Homo sapiens: one gene and its partners. The protein of the gene in region 1 interacts with the protein of each later gene in a pairwise test. Each region holds a gene or a part of one and is shown in the gene's direction. Other genes may lie near its edges. The genes, in order: GOPC, ZDHHC1, MYOCD and PID1.

Region 1 (6,958 bases):
AGCCCATAGCATCATATGAGGAGAAAGAAGGAAGGCTTCCTGGAAGAGGAGGTGTCTGAGCTAATTCTAAATCACTGTACCAAAATTCTCAAGTTTTAAAAACAAGAGAGCAAACAGTTGTCCTGTTTTTTGTTTGTTTTTGAGACATGATCTCATTATGTTGCCCAGGAGGGTCTCAAACTCCTAGATTCAAGAAATCCTCCCACCTCAGCCTCTCAAGTAGTTGTGACTACAGGTGCACACCGCCACACCCAGATCCCTTTGTTTATATAAGGGAAATAATCAGGAGAATAAGGCTAATAAATCCCTTTGGATTCCTAAACTTACTTCTTTAGCATATGTATCTGAAATTTTCAAAACTGTTGGTAATATGAATAATAAATTCAATAAATATAAATAATATGTATGAATACAACACTCCAAACCTTTCCTACATTGATTAAATAAAATGCTAGTGGATTTTTACTTTCTTCATTCACCATACATACAACTTGTTATAGCCACTAACAGCATATACTTAACCCCTTCTCTTGGTAGGGTTACTGGAAACTAAATGAAACACGTGAAGTTAGGTACAGGGCCTGGAACACAGTAGAGTTCAATAAGTGATAATCTCCCTCTCCAGTCCAAGGTGGGTCTTATACACCCTTTTATTACAGTGCCCTTGCAATCAATGATGCTCCATAAATATTTAAACTATACACTGACCCCGCAGTTAATTACCAGTACCTATCAAAGAAACCCTTAGCATCATCTCTCTTTCCCCAATTTCCTCAGTCTCCAACCAATTTATTTTTAGTAATGCCTTGTGACAAAACTCTGTAGGGATAAGTTCCTAAAACAAGAGTGTCACATTTAAGTTATATTTTTTAAAAATCACATAAGCATGATTCATAAAACAGTTATTGGAAGCTTCTGCCAATCCAACTGCAAATAGAAGTATCAAGACTTTAATATCTGTGGAAAAACAAATCGCTCAAGTATTGACATTACATGCAATCTCCAATTCCAGAGTAGGTAAGGATAAGGCAGTAAGTGTAGATAGAGTACACCGACAACAGATGGCAGCACTTGAACATCAAGCCCCGATGATAAGCCCTCCTTTTCACATCCATGTTCTGCTGTGACTTGCAGATTTGCATAACCTCAATCCAGGTGGGCAAAAGATTATGTCTACATACTACAGTAATGAGAAGGGACAACATGACATGAAACTCGTCTGAGACACAGATGAGTCTATGACTTGTTGAAGTTGTAAAGGTAATAGATACGAAGCTGGGTTCTGCAATCTCGAAAATGGGGGTACCCACAAACCATTAGAGCACTGGAAACATATAAACACTTAAAATGTCACTCAGCTGCACCCACACAATGTAGCTGGAAGTTGATTTTTTAAAGAAATGAAATTTATACTCAAGTGTGGTTCATATAAATTAGAGTTACAAGTAATAGAAAATGAGTTATTACAATTTTTGGTAATGGTTCTTATATGTTAATAGATTTGTATATGGTTTCTAACTAGGAAGAAATTAAAAAGAACTTTTGGAACTTACTTGCTAGTTTATTATACTGCTAACTTTTACAAGAAGAAATAGATTCCTTCATTCTTCTGTATTACATGGTTAACAGCAACAACTTAGGAGAAAAAGACACCTAGATTGATATACTACCTCAATCTCTTTCTAGTTTTGTGACCTTACCAAGACACTTAAGCTGTCTGTGACTTTAGCTGTTAAAAAGTGATTACTGGGTGTGGTGGCTCACACCTGTAATCCCAGCACTTTTGGAGGCCTAAGCAGGAGGATTGTTTGAGTCCAGGAGTTCCAGACCAGCCTGGTCAACAAAGTGAGGCTGCAGTGAGCTGTGATCGTGCCACTGCACTGCAGCATGGGCGACAGAGCAAGATCCTGTCTCAACAACAACAATAAAAGACGTGATCATACCTACCTCATAGGATTTTGTAAGGATCAAAGAATTAAAGAAAATAGCATAATGCCTAACACATAGTAAGGACTCAATAATTGAAAGCTATTATAATTGTGGTTCGATGTATTCTCCCCCTGCCCTGCTAATTTTAAATTATTTACTTCGCGTTCCTGAAAATGCATTGCTAACTGTATTATGTGTAGATAAAGTGGCTGGGAGCTTGATAGCTGTAGCAATGTTTTTGCAAATATTGTAGATGAAAATAAAGCTAATTTTGGAAGGGAATGGGGAAAGATGTAAATTTTAGTTTTACATTATTTATTGTGTACTAAAACCTGTATGAAGGTCCCTACTTAAGTCTAAGGTCAGGATCTCATGATCCATTTTGATTAGCTAAGTTTGCTCAAGCCAAAGGACTTTATTGCTTCATGCTAACCAGTCTGCCATGCAGTACAAAGACTGCAATAATAAAATTGTGATTTCTTGCTCCTCAGTTGCCTTGCATCAGCGAAGGGCACACAATGCAGGCTTTGGGTTGTGATTAACCGTAAGGGTCTGCCCCAAGAACAGATAACAGCAGACTGCACTCAGCTAAATATGCTTCTAGGTAATGCAGGAGTTTCCACCAGCCTACTCTAATCACACAGGTTTCTCTTTCCCTTTCTAGGACTGTCTACCCTTGAACTGGAAGTAGGCAGAATGTAAAGAGAGGAGTTGCTGGATACTTTTAAAGGCACTGAAAAATTCAAGTTAAAGTTATAGTTGAGGGGTAGTAGCCTCACTAGCCTATCTTGAGTAAGGGTCATGTCTCATTCATTTTTGTGTCTTCAATGTCGCAACAGAGCTCTGCATTCAATATATTTGTAAATATATGAATTCACAATTTTGATTTTCTGAAATGTCACGTGTGAGGACACTACCAGTTTTCAAATAAATACACCTTTTAAAGTACAGTTATGTGCCAAATAACAAGGCTTCAGCAATGAATGGATCGCATAAACTATGGTGATCCTATAAGAGTATATGACTGTACCTTTTCTATGTTTAGATATGTTTAAGTACACAAATAGTTACCACTGTGTTATAATCGCCTACCGTATCCAGAATGGCAACATGCTGTACAGGTTTACAGCCTAAGAGCAATAGGCTACATCATATAGCCTGGGTGTGTAGTAGGCTATACTATCTAGGTTTGTGTTTAAATACACTCTAGGATGTTCCCTAAGGGATGATTAACCTAAGGACACATTCCTAAGAACATATCCCCATCTTAAGTGAAGCACTACTGTAGTTGCTTTTGAAATGTGTGACCTATGGTGTATTAAGAGGAATACCGTGTGCCAAGAAGTGACGCTAAGCGTTTTACCTTACAACTGAGTTAAGTAAAATTTGGAAACTTGGTTTCGAGGTTAATACATGAAAGGCGACACAGGTAGTATGTGACAGAGGGTAAGAATTGAATCCAGGTCTACCTGACTCTTAATCACAAGACAAAAAGTCTTCTATTAATTCCGCAAAATCTGGTCAGCCGCTTCAATGCGCAGCTTTAGGCAGTCCACACCTGGAATTTGGGGTCTGGTTTACCAAGAACAGCCAGTGTGTACACCCACTCCATCCTATCCAGGAACTGGAATCGAGAAGGTAAAAACGTGGCTATTGCGCATGCTCACACCGCCCTTCCTTGCTCTCCCCTCCCTGACCCTAGATGCCACCGCAGCAACTTTCTGGGAGGATTTTGGAACGGCTCCCGCCAACTGTTAAGTCAAACCGGCGGAAATCCTTCCTTTCTGCGACGTGGACACCTTTCTCATCCTCGGGCCTTTCCAACCAGGGTGCAGAAACCACGCGCCTCCGTTTCTCAGGGATTCAAGCCGTAGTTTGCCAGTTGTTAATATGGCCGCTGACAGGCCGCTCCCAAGCTGAGGCCTTTCATAGGCCAAGATCGCATCCTGTCCCCGCCTATTTTGTCCCTCGTGGCTGCGTCCGCCCAGCTCTTCGCTACGCATGCGCAGCGGGGGCAGGCTGGGAGGTGGGACTGACTGAGTCTTCCGTGTGTCGCCGCCGTTGCCGCCTCAGCTTCAGCCTCGTTACTCCTGCGGTTCTGTGACTGTGCTGCTGGCGTTAACGGCGCGAGGTGAAGGGAGGTGACGGAGTGTGCCCGCGCGCGCGGGGGTCCCCTCAGTCCCAGCAGTTCCCTTCGTGCGCGGGGGGCGGCGAGGGTCTTCAGCAGTCGGGAGAGGCCCTTGACGGCGCCATGTCGGCGGGCGGTCCATGCCCAGCAGCAGCCGGAGGGGGCCCAGGGGGCGCCTCCTGCTCCGTGGGGGCCCCTGGCGGGGTATCCATGTTCCGGTGGCTGGAGGTGCTGGAGAAGGAGTTCGACAAAGCTTTTGTGGATGTGGATCTGCTCCTGGGAGAGATCGATCCAGACCAAGCGGACATCACTTATGAGGGGCGACAGAAGATGACCAGCCTGAGCTCCTGCTTTGCACAGCTTTGCCACAAAGCCCAGTCTGTGTCTCAAATCAACCACAAGCTGGAGGTGAGCCGTGGGTGCTGGCGGCTATGGCATCCAACCCCAGGCTGCCCGGTGGCGTCAGATGCCATTTAACGCTCCAGTGAAACGACCCTAGAAAACTGCCCACCGGGGCTTCAAATGTGATGGGAGAGTGCATGTCTGAGGAGTGAGGTGAGGGTGGGGGACAAAAAGGGCCCTAGACCGACGTGTGAGTTCCCGGGGTACTGTCGTCCACCTTCCTAGTATCTCTCTGAGGAGGAAACTAATTACATACACCAGCCTCCATTGCACATGTTACATTAACAAACCTAACAAAGATTCTCTGTCATGAAAATACCGTAGGCCACCTTTTGACAACTGAGTTTTGCAGATCTGCTTTCACATTGATAAACCGAATTTGTATATGTTAAGACAGATACAGCACTGATTATTTTCATTTTAATTATTCCAGGTCAGCGCCTATGATTGCATACAGAGACATGCATAAACTATTTAGGGGAATCTGATCAAAGCTCTTAGGAAAATTTCGTGGTGCATAACGATAGTATCACTGTCTCGGTTTACATCCATAGTTGGTTGTTAAATTACAGGCAGATACCTCCAGAGAGCTCCCTGCAATTATTGAAATTACTTCTGACCTTGAGTTTTTATATGCTTGTACATTACTGTGTAATTTTCCAAAGTCTGGATTTATTTTTGAGAGAGTGTAAAGAATCATTTGCTTTAATCTCTGATCCTGGGTGTGGGTGAGGGTGGAGTGGCTGTGGTTCAAAAAAACAAAAATATCATATTGTGCAGAAAATTTAAAAAGGACATTATTAAAATATTTAGAAATCAAGATAGATTAACATTATTGCATAAAGAGTACTTTCTAACTAGGCAATTTAAGAGAATGGGTCTTTCTTTTCAAAAAGTGTAATAGATAAAAATGGGATAATCAGTGATGTGCAAAACTCTGAACATGCTTTCCTAAGAAATCATCATTACTCGTTGTCATTGACAGTGCCCATTATATCTATATCAATATGAATGTCAGTTAAACATCCTCTCCTTGCCTAGTGGTCAGCATTCTTTCTCTCCTATTAGCCATGAAATATGTGGCATAATTAATCTTTGATTAACATAGATTTACATATCCAAGAATTGTGGCTCTTCTCCACTGCGAGAACTGTTAATTTCTTCTATCCTTTTTGAAAAGATTAGAAAGTGCTAATATGAAGGTAATCACTTCTTACTGTAGGTAAATGAAAACATCTCTTGATTTCTTTATTGGTAGTAATTTCCACAAGAAAGCTATTTTTCTCAGATAGTGAAATTGCATTTAATGTTTTCTAGAAATAGTACTTTAACTTTATTTCATCTTATTTTATCTTATTATATTTTTTTCAAAAAAGAGATGGAGTGCTTTGTTGCCCAGTTTGGTCTTGAATTCCTGGCCTCAGGTGATCCTCCTGCCTTGGCCTCCCAAAGTGCTTTGATTACAGACATGAGCTACTGTGCCTGGCCATTAGTTCTCTAGCTTTAAACAACAAAGATCAAGAGTAGCCTTTACCACATGGTATAATTCGAATGTGTCCCCCAAATTTCGTGTATGGGAAACTTAATCCTCAATGTGACAGTATTGAATCTCCAATGTGGGGCCTTTAAGAGGAGACTGGATCATGAGTACTCTGTTCTTATGAATGGATTAATCCACTTATAGATTGATTTGTTATTGGATAAATGGATGAATGAGTTATCATAGGAGTGTAGAACTGGTGGTTTATAAGAAGAGGAAGAAAGACCTGAGTAAGCATGTTAGCATGCTCAGCCTCCTTGCCATGTGACACCCTATGCTGCCTCCATACTCTGCACAGATCCCCTGCCAGCAAGAAGGCTCTCGACTTCTCGAGATCTGGCCCCTCGACCTTGGACTTCTCTGTCTCCATAACTGTAAGAAATACATTCCTTTTCTTTATAAATTACCTAGTTTCTGGTATTCTGTTATAAGAAACAGAAAGTGGACTAAAACATCACACGAGAAATTTCATATCATTTACAACTGCAGTATCAACTGGGCATTAACAACTTTTTAAAAATGAAACAATATTTTATTTATTTTTAAAATGACCTAAGGAAACTTTAAACAGGGATTTGATGTCAGATATAAAAATTGAAATTGGGAGGAAGGATAATTTTCTCAGTAGGAGGCTGTGCTCCATTTTTTTTGTCTTTAAATATTTTAGATGAGTATTCAGAATTGTAATAAATTATGCATGTTCTTTTTTCAGAAATTAAAATCACACATTCTGACTTTATGTCCTGGTTTAGGAGGTTGCATTGTTTCTCAAAATAGGAAATGCTAGCATATCACAATGTGAGCATATTTTTTATGCTTGAAACTGTTGATTTAAAGATCATAGGAAAATGGGGAGGGGAAAAATCCTAATGATTTTGGTTTGTTTGTTCATTTGTTTGTGTTTTTTCAGTTACAGTCAACTTGTTTGTCTTTGATGTTAATCTGTACACGTTTAGCAG
Region 2 (5,854 bases), on another chromosome or scaffold:
ATCGCGCTGTGCCCCCTCTCCCTGCAGGAGCGCTCGCTCCAAGCACTGCAGCGCCTGCAACAAGTGCGTGTGCGGTTTCGACCACCACTGCAAGTGGCTCAACAACTGTGTGGGCGAGCGGAACTACCGGTGAGGACAGCCCGGCCGCACGCGGGCCTGGGGATGCACTGTCTGAGGGTGGGAGCCACAGACCTTGCAGCTCGCATGGCAGGCGGGCGGGGATGGGGATGCTTCGAGGACCTGTGCCCGTTTTATGCGGGGGTGCTGCCCAGAGAGAGTGATGCTCCTGGGTGCCGGCTGAGATGGCCAAGGGTGGGCCTGGAATCTTCCACCAAGCTGGCCCAGAGAAATGTGGGCTGCCTGATGGGGTGGCCACCCATCTTCAGTTTTGCCGTATGCCTTTGGCTTCTGAGGAGTTGGGGCTGTGGGGTCACCCTCAGCCCTCTGAGCCCATAGCAATGACCCTACAGCCCCAACTCCTATGGGCCTTCTGAGGCTGGAGCTCCGGGGAGCTGACAGCGACCCATGGCTGGGCCCAGGCTCTTTCTACACAGTGTTGCATCCGCTTTACTGGGCGTCCTGCTCCTGGTGCTGGTGGCCACATATGTCTTCGTGGAGTTCTTTGTCAACCCCATGCGTCTGCGCACCAACCGACACTTTGAAGGTCAGTTTAGGCTCCGGGCCTATTCTCACCCCCAACCCTGGTCACCCGTCACGTCCCCGGCTGAGCACACACTGCCTGTGCCTTGCAGTCCTGAAGAATCACACGGATGTGTGGTTCGTGTTCCTGCCTGCCGCCCCCGTGGAGACCCAGGCCCCTGCCATCCTGGCCCTGGCCGCCCTGCTCATCCTTCTGGGCCTCCTGTCCACAGCCCTCCTGGGGCACCTGCTCTGCTTCCACATTTATCTCAGTAAGTGCCTCCTGCACCTGCCTTCTGGAACGCAGGGGTCCTCAGATTGCAGGAAGGTGCCCAGTTGGACGGTGGACCCTGAAACCATGCCCCTGCCTAGTATGGGCTCACTATGGTGGCCAGGTCTCACCTGATGGCTTCGTGTATTTGGGGACACTGGTTTCAGCCTGGGGCTGGTTGTCCTCCCTCCTGTTCTGAGCTCCAGAGTCCCCCTTCCACCGCACTGAGCCCTCTCCTCCCCCCACCAGTGTGGCACAAGCTCACCACCTATGAGTACATCGTGCAGCACCGCCCACCACAGGAGGCCAAGGGGGTTCACAGGGAGCTCGAGTCATGTCCTCCCAAGATGCGGCCCATTCAGGTATAGAGGATGAAGGGTGGGAGGGGGCCTGGGTGTGGGGGGTGTTGGGCTGTGCAGCGAGCAGCCAGTGAGGAGACAGGGCAAGGGAGGCAAGCCTGGAACAGCCGCTGGGGGCAGCAGGGACCGGGCTTGTGCTGAGCGTGTGCCTGCTCGCCCAAGCGTGGGCACAGCCAGAGGGAGCCCTGTGTTTCCCGGACCCCACGTACACACCTGCCCAGGCGCCAAGCATGCGCGGGAGGGCATGGGATGTGGGAGCCTGGAAGCAAGCAGGTTGGGGCTGCAGCAGGAGAGAGAGGGATGGACCAGCGACGGGGTCAGTGATGGGTGGCCAGGATGGAGCCATCACTTCTCCTCATCCATGACCTTGAGCGCTTATACCCATTACCCTAATTTATGCTTAGAACAGCCTCTTCTGCAGATGTGCCTACTGAGGCCTAGAAGGTTAACCACAAGCTGGGTCTGGGAAGAGTTAAGGTCTCTACGCTCTGGCCGGCCTGGCCAGGCCAGTGGCTGACCAGCCTATCCCCATTCCCACGCCCCATGGCTTCCTGAGGTCAGCCGCTGGGGTGGGGGTGATCCAGTCGTCAAAGGAGCCCCTAGGGACTAGGAAGGCGGGGCCCGGGCAGGCTTTGCTGGGGGAAGGCTGAGCCCTGGATCCCGAGGCCTCATGGCAACTGGACACAAACAGAGGCTGGTGGGTGGGTTGGGGAGGGCCTAGGACCCCACCTCTTCTGTTCTTGTCACCAGGGCTGGACACTACTTGTGGGCCAGGCTGCCAGGACTGGGCAGGCCTGGGCCTGGGGCATGCTGGCTGTGGGTGGCGACTCCACTGTTACACCACCGTATACCTGCCCCAGTGCTGGGCTCTGATGGTGGCAGCTGTGCTGGGGAGAGGGTACTGTTTCCAGCCCCACATCAAGAGGAGACGGAGGCCCAGAGAAGTAGGCAGGAGACTTTCTCAAGCCTCATAGGCAGCACCCACTGAAGCAGGGCGGGCTCTTTGGCCCTGCGCTGCCAAGGCTTTGGGGCCAAATGTGGCCACAGCGAAGACATTTAATTTCTGTTCTGTCCATCTGCAGTGACTTGAGGGAGGCAAACCCGGGGGACAGGAGTGGTGTTCTTGTCCTCTTTTACAAAGCAGAGAGCTGAGGCTGAGGGCCCAGTACCATTCAGGAATGTACACGGTTTTGAAGGTCTCTGAGACAGTATCCTCTGGACAGCCATGGCGAGAGAGGACAGGGCTCTGAGTGGGGACTCACTGGGGACGCTTTCAGACTTCTTGAGCTGGCTAGGGCCTGGCGCCTTTCCCATCCAGGCCCCTCAGCTTCTGAGACCTCCTCTACTGCTGGCCCCTCCTCTGCTCCCCCCTCTGGAGCCCAGGGCCCCCCAGTGGGCTTTGCCCCTCTGCTGGCCCTAGAGGGTCACTGAGTCCACACTGGGGCAGAAAAGAGGTGTGGGGGAGAGTGATCTTGAGGTTTCCAGTCCCTGTGACTGGCCTCTGACCCCTGACCCCGCGCTCCTCGGCCCAGGCTGGCGCCCCCACACCCCTCTCCAGAGCAGCAGCCAGGGCAGAGGTTGGGCGGGGCCGCTGGCTGGGCTCCTCCCCCAGATCTGTCAGGGCCCTGCAGGCAGCCACCCACCCCCACCCCAGCAGGAATGCGGGAGGGGCCCCTCTCTGGAGCCGTTGCCCCCAAACATAGGCTTGTTTTAGAGACGGCCTTGCTGTTACAGTGTCCTCTCTGCATTAGTCAGGACGCCTCCGTCTCCATGGAAACGGCTGCTGAACTGGCGACAGCTGTCCGGGTGCTCCCGGCAACCCCTCCCGGCTCCCACCCCGCCCGGGACCCGCCCCCATCTCGCACCACGCCCTTCCCGGGCCTGCTTTCCCCAGGCTTTTGTTTCCTCACCTGGAGTCCTTCTGGGCAAAGCTGGGGCGAGTCCTGCGGGCGGGGGTGCAGGACTAGGCCACTCCTGCAACCCCCTGGCCTCAAGGCCCCTTTGCTCTCAGGGGTCGCGTCTGCACCCTCAGGGTTGCTGTGAAGATCAGGGCTTGCCCATAAGCCTGGTGCTCAGTGGGGCTGCGGCTCTGTTTGTTCCACCACCTGCTACCTTCCCTTTTGGTGTAGTGGCAGGGAGACCACCGCATGTGCATTTACGCAGCCCCTTCTCGGCAGCCTGGATCGTGGCTGGTCCTCTGTGAGGGCGAGGGGTGTGCCCAGGACTCAGCTCTGCGGGAGCTGGTGGATGCACACTCAGGCCTGTTTCTCAGCCAGGGGAAAACAATTGGTTCAGAGGCTGGATCCCTGGGGACACCAGGAGCAGGTGCGGGCAGCTCTGAGCTTCCCACCACTCCCTGGCTGAGCCTCTCTAAACTGGGCCTATAGACCCATGGGGGCTGGGAGCCTTCCTGCAGGAGGCAGAGGCTGAATAGATGAGGTAAGGACCTGGGGATGGGGCAAGGGCCAGAAATGGGTGTTTTAAGCCTTACCCTACAGATGGGGTTTTCCCAGCATGGCTGGGAGCCTGGCATGAGGCCTGAGATATCCCACAGAGGCCAATGAGGGCAGGACTGCGTGGGCTTAGGGCTCAGCAGGCTCGGGAGCCACACCTGGCCTCCCAGCCTCCTTGACTTCCACCTTCCCCAGGAGATGGAGTTCTACATGCGGACCTTCAGACATATGCGCCCAGAGCCCCCTGGCCAGGCCGGGCCAGCAGCAGTGAATGCCAAGTGAGTGCAACCTGGGCATGTGCCACTGGGCATCTCCAGTTAGCATGGCAGGGCCATCGAGGCAGGAGAAGGGGGTAGGCTAAGGTCGGGGCATGGGTCAGGCCCTTCTCTGAGCTAACAGGAAGGGAAGCTTCTCTCAGCACCTCCAGTGGGGAGGGATTTGGGGAACAGGCCCCAGGCTTACCCTCCTGCTTCCCCCTCAGTCCCTCCCAGTTTCTTGCCACCCGTGGCCAAGCGGAACCTCCACCACCCTCTTCCCCAGACACTCTCGCCCTGCCTCCCCGGATCCGACCCCAGGTAGGAGGGACTGTGCTGGGCCTCCGGTCCAGGTGGAGTGGGATAGAAAGAAGCCTCTACCCTGGCGCTCGCCTCTGCTTCTTTTGGCGATGTGGGGCCCTCAGGCTCCCCCGTGTCTCTGCAGAAAAAGAGGAAGAGGCGCGTGTATAAAGTGCGAACGTCTGAGACCTCGGATCCGGCGTCGGGTGAGCGCCTCTCCCTGTCCGGGTCCTGCTCTGGGAACTCGAGGGAGGGGAAGGCAGAGCCACAAGCGAGCCGCAGCCACTGGGCTCATGTTCCCTTCCCTTGCGCAGGGCCTAGGGCCCCCAGCCGCCGCTCCAGCTCGTCGACGGATTCCGCGGACGCCAGCCCTGTGCACGCCGCTGGCCCTGCCGGCGCCTACCACTCGGCGTCGGCAGAGTCCGTGGACGAGATTCCAGTGGCGCAGACGCGCCTGGGCAGCGCCGCTCTGGCCGCCCCGCGGGGCCGGGGCCGACAGCCCACGCTGGCGCGGCAGGCGCGTGCGCCCGCCGTTTTCGTGAGCCCGAGCAGCGGCGAGCCCAGGGCGCCGGGCGGCCGGGAGGCTGGTCTGGCTTAGCTGGGCCGAGAGGCCGGAGGGCCGAGTTAGAGCGGCCGGCCTGACTCTCTATGCAACACCCCATCCTTGCCGCACCGAGTGCACTTTAGGGGCCCCTACGGCCGGCGGGATCGGCCTCCCTCCCCCACGACTCAGCAATACCCGCCCCACCGGCTGTGATGCTCCAATAAACTTTTTTATGCTTTTGCGGACGTCGCGCTTACTTTCTTAATGGCAGGGGCCACGGGCCATCCAGAAGCCCGACCCTGGCCAGTGGACCGGGGGCGGGGAGGAGGTCCCTGTATAGTAGGTAGCCACCCAGGCTGCCCTGTGGAGGTGCTCACGTGCGGCTCGTGGTTAGGAAAGGCCTTAGAAGGCGGCCTGGAGGAGGTTATTTTTCTTAAAGATGGGCTTTGCACTGGGAGGCCGAGAGAAAGCAGGCTTTGGGCTCCGAAAGCAGCAGTGGGCGCTGAGGCTGCGAGGCCGTGGGGAGGTGGCGGCGAAAGGAGGGGGCCGAGCCAGGAGGTCCCGCAGCTTTTCCCCGGCAGCAGGGCTGCCGTCGAATGCCAGCATCCTGGGGCTGGGCGAGCGCGATTCGCTCGTAGGGAGTCCCCTCCCTTCTTCCCCACTGCTCCAGGCTCTGAATCCTACCCAAGAGAGCACGGGAGTTGTGGCCTGGGGGTGCCATCCGTTCAGTGGATGGCAGTGCTCTTGAGTCAACCGTATACCCCTGTCACTGAGGGAGAGCTCCTTCCCGATTCCCCAAGCCCCACCAATGCCCCGCGCAGCTCCCCAGTGGCCTCTGGTTGACTCTCTGGGGAGCTGGATCTCTTCTGGAGATTGGGGCCGCTTAGAGCTTTAGGCACATCCCAGGATGGGAGGCTGTTTCCTCAGGGGGCCGTCCGAAGACGCCCCGAACTGCAGAGCGCTGGTCTCGCCGTCGCGAGGACCGCGGAGTTGCGGGGGAGGGGCGGGATGCGGCTCCCGGAGAGTCTCGGGGA
Region 3 (7,028 bases), on another chromosome or scaffold:
TGATGTGCAGTGGGACCGGCGGTTGGTCAGTTTCTCTGTCTCAGTTATTTAATCGGTAAATGTTGAGGTTGGATTAGGCAATGTCTTAGACCCCTTTGGTAACATTTTATCATTCTCTGAAAACACATAAAGATTGACTGGGAACAAGTGTAACTGTGATTGTGCTGTGTGGCAATTGTGTGTGAAGGAGAGGCAGTTTTACATGAATGTAGTAATTTGTGCTGATTTTAAACTAATCACATTTTTACAGTTTTTAATCTTCTCATGTTGTTTATTCAATATCTAATCAGTGTCACTATCAACAGTTCTCCTCCATATCAATCCTTGTGTCCTACAAAACACACAGGGAGGTACGTATGTGTGCCACACACAGGCACACACAGCCCTCAGACATAAAGGATCAAAAGTGGAGAGAGAGATCCATGAATGGATGTTGCTTCTAAAGAATCATTGTGTTTCTTTTGCTTCTCTCTCTCTCTTTCCCACTTCCCCATCTTAAACCGCGCAAACAGAGGCAAAGTCTGGCAATTGCCATGAACTTGACCCCACCCCCACAAATATAACCTTGTTCAGTTTAGCAAATAAAAATACAGAATGCTCAGTTCAATGTGAATTTCCAAGCAATAGTGATTACTTTTTCACTATATAGCAGTACTTGGGACATACTTTTCTCTGAAATCCAAATTTCACTAGGCCCTGTTATTCTTTTTGGCAACCCTACCTACAATCTGAGTGTTTTTTGTTGTTTTTTTTTTCTGAGACGGAGTCTCGCTCTGTTGCCCAGGCTGGAGTGCAGTGTCACGATCTCGGCTCACTGCAAGCTCCGCCTCTGGGGTTCACGCCATTCTCCTGCCTCAGCCTCCTGAGTAGCTGGGACTACAGGTGCCCGCTACCACGCCCGGCTAATTTTTTGTATTTTTAGTAGAGACAGGGTTTCACCATGTTGGCCAGGATGGTCTCGATCTCTTGACCAATCCGAGTGGTTTTTGATCAACACTTTCTGCTGCCCCATCCAATATCCTATCAAGCTCTTGAGATTCTCTGGGTCCCCAAGGACTCCCCAAAATGCAAAACTTGTACTTTAGGCATGAAAGCAGAAAACTCCAGATGGGGTGGGGGTACCATGAGAATGAACCCTAGGTCCCCCAGAGTACAGCCAGCTTATGGGTGAGGAAGAACATGGGAGCTTCACCTCTGGTCTCTGGTCGTCTGGCAAGGAGGAAGATAAGCTCAGCAGGCAGGCCGGTGCTCAAGCAGCAGAGGCTCCAGAGGTTGGAGCTGTAGTTAAAAGAAGGCAAAGAACATGCAAAGCAGGTACTCAAGAGGCTGTGGCTGAATTCAGGTAGTGGGACCCACCCCACTGTGTTCTTCTACTCCAATAGATGCAGGATCAGGCCCCTGGTGCCTGTAATTGGTTGCTTGTCCTTTCAGAGAGGGCAAGGGACATCTCAGCAAGACCCTGCAGTCATCTCTCTCTGTCGTTTCTCTATTCTCCATCCTTCAGACAACCTAAAAGGACGACTGATTCCTACTTTAAGCTAAATCCTCAACATCTCTGGCACTGAATTTTCTCTCTCAGGAATTGAGCTTAGCCTAAGAAGTCGGTCCCCAAGATTTTTATCATAATGGACAGTACTGAAGACATTTTCACCATGAGCTCGAGAGAAGCCCAGACTATCTACCTTCATTGGCAATTAGTTTTCTAGTTTAGAACAAATAATTTAACCTACAAGAGTACCTTTCCCATGATATGTAATATTTATGTATGTACATATAATTTAATTCACCTTTTTAGATCTCATTTTTACTTTCTACAAAATAGAGGGTTTTGACTGGTTTCTATTTCAAGTTGCTTTTAGCCCTAAGATTCAATACTTTTCCAAGGGAATGGCCCTAAATATTTTTGTAAATGCTTGATCAAAGCATTACATATGAGAATACAATTTAATGGACCTTAAAAAATGAACATATTTTAATTTCTACATGGAATGTAAAAGTTAAAGGAACATTTGGGGTCTGGCTCAAGCCACCTGCTTGAGACCATTCCTGTCTCCTCAAGTCCAGCTGTATTCGATTCACTCACAGCTCCCATGCCCTTCCCTCACCATCTTAATCACTATAGCAAGAACCCCAACCCCCACCTTCCCTGCCCTAGTTTTATTCATAGCTCTTATCACTATTGGACAGACTAAACCTTTTACTTGTTTATTTGCTTATTATTTGTCCATAACGGCAGAAATTATTACTTGTTTATTCGTGTTTGGTTTTTACTGTCTTTATTCTCTAGCACCTAACATAGTTTATAGGGTATTTTCCAGTCATTTCATATCATCTATGCTTGGCACAGAGAAGGAACCCATTAAATATATGTTGAATAAATAGGTTTTATTCTTCCTCTAAAGTCTATTCAAAAACATCAAAAACAAGCAATATAGGTTTATTGTTAGATGTGCGTTTGTGTGTACTAAAACTAGAACAAAAAGGAGAGGAGTGACTATAAATACAAAAGTCAAAGTCATAGCACAGTGGGAGAGGCTAAATAAGGAGGTAGGGGTGTAGCCGAAAGGTAAGAAGCAGGTTATCCCTATTGTTCTTAGGTTAGGCAGTAGTTGTGTCCATGTGTTATTAAGCAAATTAATTAAACAAAGGTCATCTATGGCTCAATGACGATAGTGTGACAGTGTCATGAACCAAGGATTGTGATTAATTCAATTCTGTGTACCCAGGATACTTTTTTAAAAACATATAAATTCTTTAAGACCAGGAAGAGTGGCATTTGTCTTTTATCTGCTACAGCATGTGACAGAAACAGTTAGCAAGATTGTGTCAAGTTGGCTTGAACCAGATTGAATGTGCTCTACTCTAATTGGATTAAATTGAAGAATAACAGAAGTGCAGGGCAGAAGCAAAATACTCCACCCAGGGTTAGAATTTTACATGCTTCAAAAAAGCCAAACCTGAATAGGAGATGCTAGAACAGGCTGCTTTTCATTTCCTTTATTTTCATCTAATTAGCAAGGCTTCCCGAGCATCTAATGAATGGTGAACAGGTACCCCACATCTCTGTCCAGATCAAGGGGGAGGAGCCAGCAGGTGCATTTCACAGGTCTCTGCTTTCCTGGTTCCATTCCTTCTGTCCTGTGGGCCAAGTCACAGTGGGAGCCCATCTGGGACTCCGTGGTCTTGGGAATATGTTTATATTCCCAGGGCTCTCTGGGCCTCTGTTTCCATATTGGTAAAATGACTCATGGTCTTCACATCCTCATACTTCTATGAGGGAAAGATCTTTGTAGAATTATTAAGGGTTTCTTTCTGAAAAGAAGGAAATTAGTGAACCTTTATTCACTGTGTGGAAATGGATAACTGGATCTGGTGGCATGTGAGTTGCATAAGAGTTCTTGCTTATGCGTGGAGTAGTTAAAAGTTTTCGATGAACACAAATAGGATTAATAACAACAACCATGACCATTAGCCCAATAATAGTTTTGCAGCCTTACGACGTTAGTACTTTGAATTTCTATTTTATTAGGCAGATAATGCTTATATGTTTCAGAATAGCTAGTAAGTCAAGCTGTCAAGCTTTACGTAACGAGATTTGGATCATTATTCTTAGATAAAACAGAAAGAGGTGTCCAATTTTTGTTAAAATAAAATGTATCATTTATCCCCAGAAATTTAGAATAAATAAAACTGTTTTGTGACTTTTGTTTTTCCAGAGCATAGCAAAATGAAGGGAGAATAATGTCTTTCTTTTCTCCTGCTGGTGAGGGAAGATAAGTTCTTTCTTTTCACTATTGGGGTACTTCTCTTATGAGTACAATCCCTCTGACTCATGGATGTTTGCTGTATTCAGCTACTTTAGATCACTAGAGAAGAAATTGAATTCAAAGTGAATTAAGCCACTGTAATATTGTGAGATGTATGTATTGGGTTCTCCTAGCTCTCACTTGGTTTGTGCAGCAATGATTAATGGATACACAGACCCTCAAATACTTAGTATGTCTTTATCAGCAATCCCTTCTGACACCTCAGTTTGAACTACTGCATTGAGTAAGTTTTCCCTTCTCAACTTGTATCTCCTTCCCCTTGGCCTCTTAAGTGGTACGAAAGCATCAAATTAGTTGTTTCTCATAAAATATGGTCAAATAACTCCAGGCAATATCCTCATTTCACAGATGATGTGAAATGACTAGAAAATACCCCATAAACTATTCTGCCTTTTCTATTTCCGGAAACACTCTCCTTAGGAAGCCAATCTTGTTTTCTGCTGACTGGTTGGGCTGGTTTTTCAGTCCTAGGTAAAGTTCCACAAGGAACTTTCTGTTATTTATTTGAGACTTACTGCCCTGTCTGGAGCTTCTAAAAAATGATTTCAAAAAAGTTAAATCCAGAAAATGCTGTTCAACATTAATTGAACAATAGTTCAATAGTTCTCCTCAATACATTATATTTTTTGTCATTTGTGTTCTCTTTCTGTCCTGGTCCAGTTGCATAAAGATTTTTACAACGTGATAATCAGAGTATATACATAAGTTTATACTCAGCCTTTTTATCGTTAGTATAATAGCATAAATATTTTTCAAGCGGCTACATAGCAACATAGTTTTTGCTTTAAAGACTGTATAATATTCCCCCAAGTGAGTATATAGTAATTTACTAAACCTTTTCCACTTGTATTGGAAAATTAAGCCAGTTATAATCTTTATATTATAAATAACACTACTATGAAAATCTGTATGCATAACACTACTGTGAAATCCTTCATGTAAAGAAAGAAAATATTTTCCTCCCTTTGGATTGTTTTGTAGGCTACTCATTATTTAGAGTAAATGCCTAAGTGTGGGAATAATGGATTTGAATATTTATGAGCTGTAATGATGGCTAGTGTTTTTGGAGCACTTACAATGTAACAAACTTAACTTTAGGCCTATTTCTATTTGGCGATGAATGCTTGTCCCTACTGTACAACTAACTCAGAGTAACCTTGGGTACTTACCCAATGGTGGCTGGTATCTGATGAGCCTTTCATACCTTTTCAGTAGAGATTGAAAAGGAAAATGAGTAACAGTTGCCTAATGCCTTTGGAAACTTCCATGTGGTCTGCTATTTAGGGACCACGTGTTACCAAATATGACTCATGCCTCATCAAAAGGGAAGAGAAGAGGACTAGGAGTTACTGAACCTATTATCTGTGGGCACCTTTATCATCTCATTTAATCCTTACAAAAATGTGATTATTCCTATCTTAGAGATGAAGAAGCTGAGGCTCAAAGATGTTAGACAACTTGGAGGCCAGGTATGAACGTATTTGTTCCACTGTCCCATGATGATTATCTCTATTATAACCTGCAGCTCCTTTCCTTCTTTCCCTGCCCCACCGCATAACCATACACACATACCTGACCCAGTAGATTTAATGTGCCTCTTTCTGGGCTACAACTCCAGGCATATATCCAATTACTGCTATCGTCCTTGATTTCCTAAATAGTGATTTATCAAACTAGTTGTTTCTAGTACTTAACCTATAAATTACACATGCCATTCCTACAAAGTCCCAGGGGTTTTAATAAAACTTGACTTTTTAAACTTCAGTTTATTTGAGAAAAAAAAATTAAGAAATTTTTGAAAGGCAACAAGAAGAAGAGATTTGCTCTAAGACATTAAACATAGTTATATAAGAAATATCTAGGAGTTAGTACCAGAAGTAAAACAGACAATTATTATCAGTGGATGAGAATTGTGTATATGTGCATGCATACACATATATACACTTATGTATATACGCATAGATTTAACCTCTGATAACAGTGGCTGTCCACTGTTTATCTACAATAAAATATGTAATGGGTTTGTTGAGAAAATTGACTATCTCTTTGGAAATAAGTAAATTGAGATATTTTATGATATACCTTAAAATAAATTCCGTATGGATTAAAGAGCTAAGGAAACCTATAAAATATTTGAAGAAAACAGAGGAGAATAATCTTTTCATCTCAGTGTAGGACAAGCCTTCCCAAGCTTATGGCCATGGCCAGGTTAGAAATAAAAATGGACATATTTGGTCACTTAAACACTTTAAAACTCCACATTAAAAAATCATCAAAATAAATTTAAAATCAAACTGTAGATTGAAAAAAATACTTGAAAATATACGTGAGACAAAATTATTAAAAGGACTTATATGAACAATAAGATTTAAAGCAAACAACCTAAGGGAAAGACAATTCAAGGGAGAAAATAATCAGTCAGCATATGAAATATACTCAACTCACTAGCGTTCAAGAAAATGCAAAGTGAAAGATCTAGATACTATTTTTTAAAAACTTCAAATTAGCAAAATTTTAAAATGTTGATAATATCGAGTATTGAATAGGCATGAAGACATAGATACACCTATCGTGTTGGTGAGCTATCCATACTGTAAAGTCTTAACAGATACAATTTTATCACAGTTTATAATGCCTAACCTAAAAAAGATGGAAACAGCATAAACATCATCTGTAAGGGAACGATTCATTAAATTACAATATATTCACAGTATAGAATACAATAAAACACAATGCAAAGCAAAAAGAAATGATAAAATTCTATATGAACTGATGTGAAAAGATCTCCAAAACGTAGAATTAATTTTTTAAAATTCAGGTTATAAAACAATCCGGCAACATATTTTCATTTATGTTTTTTAAAAAGTATTGGCCAGGCACGGTGGCTCACACCTGTAATCCCAGCAATTTGGGAGGCCGAGATGGGTGGATCACGAGGTCAGGGGATCGAGACCATCCTGGCTAACAGGGTGAAAACCCGTCCCTACTAAAAATACAAAAAATTAGCCTGGCACTGGTGGCGCAAGCCTGTAGTCCCAGCTACCTGGAAGGCTGAGGCAGGAGAATCGCTTGAACCCAGGAGGCGGAGGTTGCAGTGAGACGAGATCACGCCACTGCACTCCAGCCTGGGTGACAGAGCAAGACTCCGTCTCAATCAATCAATCAATCAATCAATCATATTTATATATAAGTACACAGAAA
Region 4 (7,648 bases), on another chromosome or scaffold:
ATGAGATGACCTTACTCACATATCTGGCTGTGGGTGCTAACTCATGGTCTGACCTCCCTCTGTGTTGTTCTCATCTTGAGGAGTCTAGTCCAGGCTCCTTCATAGGATGACTTATGTTCCAAAAGGGTGAGAGCAGAAGCTGCAAAGTGTTTTGTGGCCCAAGCTCAGAAGTTCCACAGTGTCACATCTGCTGCATTTTATTGGTCAAGTATGCCACAAGTCCAGCACAGATTCAAGGAATGTGGACAGATTGCATCTCATGATGAGAGAAGCAGGCAAGTTACAGTGCAAATGGGCATGACTTCCTTGGGGAGGGGAGATTTTTGTGGGCATTTCTGAAAATAATCTATCAGGTGTCTAAGGTTTGTGAGGATATGAGGAGTCAAGAGTAGGAGAGTCACAACACACGAATGAGCCAGTCCTACCCTGTTAAGCGTCATCTTAACATCCCAATACATTCCTATCACTCTGTAGGGACGAAAGCCAGTGGTTCTGTCACTACTGGGAGGTTTAAATGGTCGAATGAATTTTCAGACTTTTTTATATTGCTCATTTATATACAGCTGTTTTGGTGATTTTGAAATAAGGTTAGTGATACCATAACAAGGGCTTTTTAATGATAATTCTGCTAAATACACAACCATAATAAATTTTGCTGTCATCTGCTTAAGTTAGAATTGTAAGTGGGCCAGGTATGGTGGCTCATGCCTGTAATCCTAGCGTTCTGGGAGGCCAAGGCAAGTGAATTACTTTAGCCCAGGGAGCCTGGGAAACACAGCAATACTCTATCTCCATAAATTTTTTTTTTAATTAGCTGGGTGTGGTGGCACAAACCTGTAGTCCCAGCTATTCAGGAGGCTGAGGTGGAAGGATTGCTTTGAGTCTGGGAGGTTGAGGTTGCAGTGAGCCGAGATCGCGCCACTGCACTCCAGCCTGGGCGATAGCGTGAGATCCCATCTCAAAAAAGAAAAAAGAATCGTAAGTGAGCTTGAATATCCTTTGTCATTTTTATTTGAGAATCTAAAGCAAATAATTGAAACCCACAAATATTCCAAATGGAAATAGTGTAACCACAAGAAGCATGGGCCGCTTTGTGAGAATTGGATCATTCCAATAATAAAAAGAGAAAGAAACATAATGGGGATGAAAACGAATGTTTCCCACACACCTACCATGTGTCAGGCATGCTGCACATATTAATTCATTCACTCCTCCCCAAAATCCTAAGTATTAAGTAATATTATCACCCATTTTATAGAAGAGAAATCTGAGGTTCAGCAAGGCAAATGACTTGTGAAAAGCTGATACCTAGGTAGACAGTTCGAAGGCTGGGATTCAACCTGAGTCTTCTGCTTGTCCTAGCTCCTTTCCAACATTTACTGAGATTGATAAATATTTTATACATATATTCAAATTATATACATTTTATCCTACTTTAAAAACCATAATTGTATCATTTTCAGCTGCAACACAACTTTATAATTATCCTTTTAAATGCTGCATAATATTTTAATATTTCTTTGATATGCTGGACCATACTTTCATTCACCATTACTCTGACTTGGACATTGAGGTTGCTTATGCTAGGGCTCAGAACCATGAACTAGATCAAATCTGGCTTAACACAATTTCTAGGGATGCTGTAATTATTTTTCTGAACCAAATGTGTGAATAACGCATCTGTGCCTTGTCAAGCTTTTTTGATTTCTGTCATTTGCCTTCAAATGGTATTTATTGACAAGATTAGACCTGTTTCGGTAATTGCAGGAGACTAAGTACATGAAATTAGGCACACATTTACATGCCTAATATTTCTACTCATTGCACCAAAACACCTTCTGCTCATTTTAAGGGTGGTTTCTTGCTCAGAACAAACCTGTTTACATCGTAAGGCAGCATTTTCAGATTCACCAGGAAGGATGAGGTTCCAATGTCACAGAACAGAGCTGGGAGACATTGGCATGCAGGTCTCATCTCTAGCCAGCAGATGTCTCTATTTCATTCACCCTTCATTGCAGGCTCCTCCTGAATGGGAAGACTTGGGAGCAAAATCTATGAGTGGGAGGTTGTCCCATCCTTTTGTCACCTCCCACAAGCCTGCAATTGCCCCTCCTCCACCCCCTCCCCTAGCTTCCTGATTCGTGGCATAAAGGTAATTGAAACAGGAGTGCCATTTGAGTTTAAATACATTCTTTACTTTACCAAATCTGTTTGCAAAGTGGGAACGGTAACTGAAAGCAATCTTTACAGAGCCAAAGCTTTTTCTCTTTAAATAGCACCATACTCCGTACTAAAAGCTGTATTACTGAGTCATAACAATTAATTACGTTTGGAGGTGAGAAGACAGGATTTAACGCTCTAATGCGATTTGAATTTAGGCCGTTAACTCATTCCACTGCTATTTAAAACAAAATCACTTTTCCACGGAAGCATCTGCAAGCAAGGATGGTTTCAGAGCTTAAGTCTGAAGACATCCCTGGCAACTGAATATTCCTGTTTTAGCTTCCTGGGGGGGTTGGGGGGTGGGGTTTATATGCATGTCTGGATTTTCTAGATTTTTGTAATGAATTGCATTTCTTTCTACTTTGGGATTTGATAAAAGAGAACTGGGGGCTGGGAAGGTCATAAGGAATTTTGTAGGTGTGGAGGTGTGCAGGAGGAGTTACCGGAAAAGCAAACAGAGACCATATCACCAAGCATGTGAGGCACATGTCTGTGCGGGCTGACAGGCAAACACCTCATGAAAAGAGATTTATTAATAAGTTCAGAACAAGTAGCAGGAACTGGAGAAGGAGCTGAGAAGGTTCAGGTGGTTATCAGGCAGGAGTGGGAGGGTCCTGTGGATATCCAGGGAGACAGAGACAAGCTCTTCAGAGGCAGCTCTGTGGCTTTGCCAGAGGCTCCTAGAGGCACTGAGGGTCCTGGGCTTGCCAAGGCTGGTGGCACCAACATAGCAACCGCAGGGTCCAGAAGGATCTGCCTGGAATCCTGGATCTGAATCGCCATTGTAACTCCCCACAGTGTGACTCTGTGAACCCTGTGCTCCCCAAGCCTTGGGAGATAGGGGCTTCTGTCCCACGGAGAGTTGCTGCGAGGGTCCGATGAGCTGAGGGTTAGATTCTGGAGTGGTTCCATATCTGGAAATCATTGTAGTCATGCAGAACAAGGAAAATGGACAGATCCTCCTTCCAGACATGGAGTGTGGATTTTGACATTGCATGAGTAGCTCACGGCCCAAGCTGTGCAGCTGTCTCAGTATGAAATGCCTCTCTTTCACACCCCTCTGCTCTCAGGACCCTGCCTTGTAGGAGCCTAGGGCTCCCCACAAACATTGTGTTCTCTCTGCTCCTCTCTTTGGTCATTCTATGTCCTGAGTTCTTCCCACCATGTTCTCCTCTCCCACTCTTCATCAGCTCGAGAATCAGCTTAGTATCCCTGACTTGCCAAGTGCCTTTAACCCCCAGCCCTAGACGGATGCTCTTTCCACTGGGTTTCCATGGTCAGTTAGAGGCGCAGGGCCACATCTCCTGCCCTGAAGTCATCTGACTGTGCACTCTCTAAGCCACTCACTGGCTGTGTGACCTGGACAAGTGACCTAAACCTTATAAGCCTCATTTGTTTGATCCACATGGTGAAAATATTAATAGTTATTTTGCCGAGTTGTCAAGAGAATGGGAAGGGCTGGCCTGTTTAGGACAGGAAGTCATCTCATGGTGGCCGGCACTAGCCGGGGAGCCTCCAGGCCTGCGAGCCCAGAGCGGCTTTCCCTTGGGTTCTGAGAGCCTCCTGCTGCACCTGGCAGATCTCAGGATGAGTTAGTGATTCGGGAGTCTGCATGGCCCTCCTCACCCCTGTATAGGTTAGGAGTCGAGTCCTCTCCCCATCATGAAGCATGGCCTCTTCGTGGCCAATCCCTCTCATCTCTCAGGTCTTACTCCAGGCATTCCCCAGGGCCCTTGTCTAAGAAGCTCTCCTCTCCCCTTCTTCCCACATCTGCCCTGTTTTATCACCACCCGATATAGCACCGGCTTGTTGATGTGTTTGCTCAGTCACGACTCTCTCTCCAAAGCAGAAGGTAAGCTCCAGAGAGAAGGAACATTCTCTTGTCTTCTATTCTGCGTCGCTGCATCCTCAGAACCCAGCATAGGGGCTGGAGCCTAATAGATGCTCAGTTAACTGGAGTGGGAAGAATGAATGGAAGTGTCTCCCTAGCACAGCGCCAGGCACAGCACAGGCACTTCAGAGATGCCTGTTATATGGAAACCCGGGACCCCCGGGGCTACGGTTTCCTTATTTTAGGAATTTCCCCCACCCCCGCCACCCCCGACATCCCCGCTGCCCCCACCACCCCCGGCTCCAGGCCCTTCCCCCCTCAGCCAGTCTGTCCCTTTTCCCAGACCCCAACCCAATGGGGGCTTCCTGCAGGGAAGGGCCGGCTGTTCTAGCCTCCCCATTCACCCCTCACTAGGATTTAGAGTCGGCCGCGCTGCACTCCCGCCCCGCGCGGCCCCTGGGCGCCCGCCCCGGGCATGCTCAGAGCGCGCAGGTCCGGGCGGCGGCGGCGGGGGAGGAGGGAGCGGCCGCCCCCGCCGCCGCCGCGCGCTCGCCGGGCCCGGGCGGAGCTGCGCAGTCCTCTCGCAGCTGCGCCAGGACAGCCGGCGCGCGGCCGTGCCCACAAGTTGCCGGCAGCTGAGCGCCGCGCCTCCTCCTGCTCGCAGCCCCCTACGCCCACCCGGCGGCGGTGGCCAGCGCCAGGACGCACATCCCGCGGACACCGACCCCAGATGTAAAGCGGGACCCCAGCCCCTCGCCCCCCGGCGCGATCGACAGTCTCGCCAGCGTCTCCTCTGCCAAAACCCAGGGCTGGAAGATGTGGCAGCCGGCCACGGAGCGCCTGCAGGTAAGGGGCACCCGGGAGCCGGGGGCCAGCCTGGAGGAGGAGGTGCCCGGGCAGAGGAACCTAGTTTTTGCTTCTGCCTACTTTAGGGGATTTGCCCAAAACCATCTTGTAAGACGCATCGATGGCAACATGATGCTGTCGGTTTACCCAGCGCCAGGAACCCGGCAGGGGTATGGGGATGATGAAATTGATAAACGCACGGGTTCAGGCGTTACAACTTTTGGCTTGGAGGTGCTTGTGTGCGTGTTGGTTGGTACATATAAGGTTGGACTTTCTGACTGGCAATTTAGATTGCATTCCACTGACACAATGCAGTGGTCTGGGGTTAGGATTTTTGAAGCCAGATTTTTTTTTTTTTTTTTTTTTTTTTGTGGTCACCAGGAAAGACAGAACAAGTGATATGTGAAAGCATCCATTTGCCAATATAATGTGGAAATATCAAGCTTGGTTTGGCTTGGTCATGGTATGCTACTTATTTTATTTTTCCCTATTCATTGGTTCTCTCCCTTTATCTTCCTTAAACCCAAGCTCCTTCAGATATTTAAGAATCAAAAGTAGGTTCAGCCAGGAATATTTATGTCCTGGGTTATCCCATCAAAAGTTTTTTACTGCTGTCTCCTGAAATGCCAGACTGCCTTGAATTGGATTCTGGAAGCTGGGGATTTGCGGGAGGCGATTGAAGAGAAAGAGGGACCTTTCCCAGAAGAACTCCTTCAGTGACACGTTGGGCCTTGGGATTGCCCTGGTTGCAAGGTTTGAGGACTGCCTTTTGCTGGCAAATATTGTCAAGAGTCACGGCAGCTACTCTGCCAGATAAAATCCACTGAATCCTGCAGTTAAACTTTTGGCAAGCTAGGAGCCACATTGTTTCGTAGTAAACTTTGAAGACGTGTTTAACTGGTAAAATACAGCACCATTGGAGGCTGAGTGCATCTGAAGACTTAGGACAATGAGGCCAGGCCCTGGCTAGGTTGGAGGCTTCTCAATGAACATTTACAGCCCCAAGCACAGTTTCTCAGATGCAGGGAGAGGCTAACCTTTGTCTAGGAGTCCTCATACAGAGGAACAACCCGCAGAGGGCATTGCATTTAGCAGAAACAGATGCCCCACAGCTCCTTTCCAAAGCTCCCTGGGCCATGATTTGCGGGGAGTGTGTTCAATTTATCAGAGCCTGAGACACCAGACCAGTTCCCCAGGGTCTCAAGTAGAATAAACAAGAAAACCTGCATTTAGCCTTGCAGATGAGGAGGTGGATGACCAACCTCCTAACCCCCTCCTTGTCTTACTAAGAGAATATCAGCACTGGGCTCTGAATGACTGATAGAAGGTGATGTAAATATATTTTGGCAGTGGCACCAGATACCAGTGGCGCATTTGAAGTTCTCCTTCGGTTAAAGGCGTAACTTCTATTCCAAAGGAGCAGAATGATTGAGGGGAGCTGGCAGGTTTCCTGTTCAAGTGCAGAGGGTAGCTTTTGGAAGTCCTTAGAGAGATGTGACCAAAATTCCTTGAGGTGGCTTTTATGGCCTGATGATCTGTACCTCTGAAGAGTTTGTAGATTTTTGACTATTCAAGTTCTTCCTACCGGCCTGTTTCACTTAGGGAATCCTGTGCGCTCTGGAGCATGTGACCCTTGGCAGGTGGGCGCTCTCGCTTGCCTTCCCATAGAGATTGCTCCTCACTAGAAATGTCTCCCCCTTATTTTGTGAAATGTGCACGTGTGCATTTTGGCGTGAGCCTGGTTTATTGCAGTTGGTGTTTGCAATGCGTTTATTTTATTTCAAGGTGTCATGTTGAAAGAACCTGTTTTTAGGCTTTTGAAAGCTCATATAAACAGGGCTTATCACCAATAAGACCGAGTCACTGTTGGAAGGTCCTTACCAACAGGGGGCTCAACTTCATGCTGCCCAAATTTCGATGAGTCTCTTTTGAAAGTACATACATCTCAAGCCTTGAGATTAGAGAAGTGAGACAAATGCGGAAAAATTTTTTTATATCCGTGGCTTCTTCCCAAAGAGTATTGCTTGACTCTCCTTGAAAACACATAATTTATATGTTTTTACTTTTGCCTCTGAGAGAGCTGTTGAGGATGAGATGGTGAGTGAGCTGCTTATCATATTTTATTTACATTCCTTGTGGTTATCTTTGTCACAATCTCTGTTTGCTGTCTGGGGTTTTTTCCTTTTCTTTTCCTTTCACCGTGATATAGAAACATGCCTGTCCGATTCCTCAGTGAGAAGCCACTTTGCCACTCCCAGGCTCTGTGGCCACAGAGATAGCAGTGGATATCATGCTGGATAGGAAACTTGAGAATGAGTTCTGCTCTTTAATGATGTCTGAGCTCCATGTGCCTTTCACAAATCTTTATAAACCTTCTCATTCGACCTCATTAATTTTTTTCTCATTTATCTTTAATACAAACATTCTAATTTAGATGAGCCAGAGTGAAGAAAATTCGTCAAGGAAACATTCCCAGAACTTCCTAATAGGACTAAGGAGTCAATTTATTTTATCAATACCTAGAATCAAAAGAGGGGATGGAAGAAAATAACCAGACCCTTTCTTGATGATATAGTTCATATTCGATGAAGCTGGTTTGAGAAGTCTGTGTCCCAGGGGAGTGTGATAGATCTTTGCGTAGAACAGTCACCCTCTAAATAATGGACTTTTGAGTGTAGCAACTGGCTCCGTTGCTCAGGAAATGGCATCTTTGATCAGGTTTGATTATCATTATTGTTACCCACACTT

Evidence for each region.
Region 2: the proteins of GOPC (region 1) and ZDHHC1 interact in binary tests that used the Homo sapiens proteins (3 or more experiments, as listed by UniProt).
Region 3: the proteins of GOPC (region 1) and MYOCD interact in binary tests that used the Homo sapiens proteins (3 or more experiments, as listed by UniProt).
Region 4: the proteins of GOPC (region 1) and PID1 interact in binary tests that used the Homo sapiens proteins (3 or more experiments, as listed by UniProt).

Annotation. Positions count from the first base shown.
Region 1 is NC_000006.12:117,599,511-117,606,468, reverse strand, and holds the start of GOPC (Golgi-associated PDZ and coiled-coil motif-containing protein), read left to right. Parts: upstream 1-3,957; 5' UTR 3,958-4,180; coding exon 4,181-4,465; intron 4,466-6,958.
Region 2 is NC_000016.10:67,393,630-67,399,483, reverse strand, and holds the end of ZDHHC1 (palmitoyltransferase ZDHHC1), read left to right. Parts: intron 1-27; coding exon 28-129; intron 130-539; coding exon 540-664; intron 665-752; coding exon 753-911; intron 912-1,159; coding exon 1,160-1,272; intron 1,273-3,917; coding exon 3,918-4,000; intron 4,001-4,203; coding exon 4,204-4,297; coding exon of another isoform or gene 4,298-4,421; coding exon 4,422-4,482; intron 4,483-4,590; coding exon 4,591-4,874; 3' UTR 4,875-5,332; downstream 5,333-5,854. UniProt on the Homo sapiens protein: Palmitoyltransferase that catalyzes the addition of palmitate onto various protein substrates, such as NCDN and NLRP3. Has a palmitoyltransferase activity toward NCDN and regulates NCDN association with endosome membranes through this palmitoylation.
Region 3 is NC_000017.11:12,668,880-12,675,907, forward strand, and holds part of MYOCD (myocardin), read left to right. Parts: intron 1-2,982; exon of another isoform or gene 2,983-3,312; intron 3,313-7,028. UniProt on the Homo sapiens protein: Smooth muscle cells (SM) and cardiac muscle cells-specific transcriptional factor which uses the canonical single or multiple CArG boxes DNA sequence. Acts as a cofactor of serum response factor (SRF) with the potential to modulate SRF-target genes.
Region 4 is NC_000002.12:229,268,266-229,275,913, reverse strand, and holds the start of PID1 (PTB-containing, cubilin and LRP1-interacting protein), read left to right. Parts: upstream 1-4,626; 5' UTR 4,627-4,870; coding exon 4,871-4,900; intron 4,901-5,271; exon of another isoform or gene 5,272-7,648. UniProt on the Homo sapiens protein: Increases proliferation of preadipocytes without affecting adipocytic differentiation.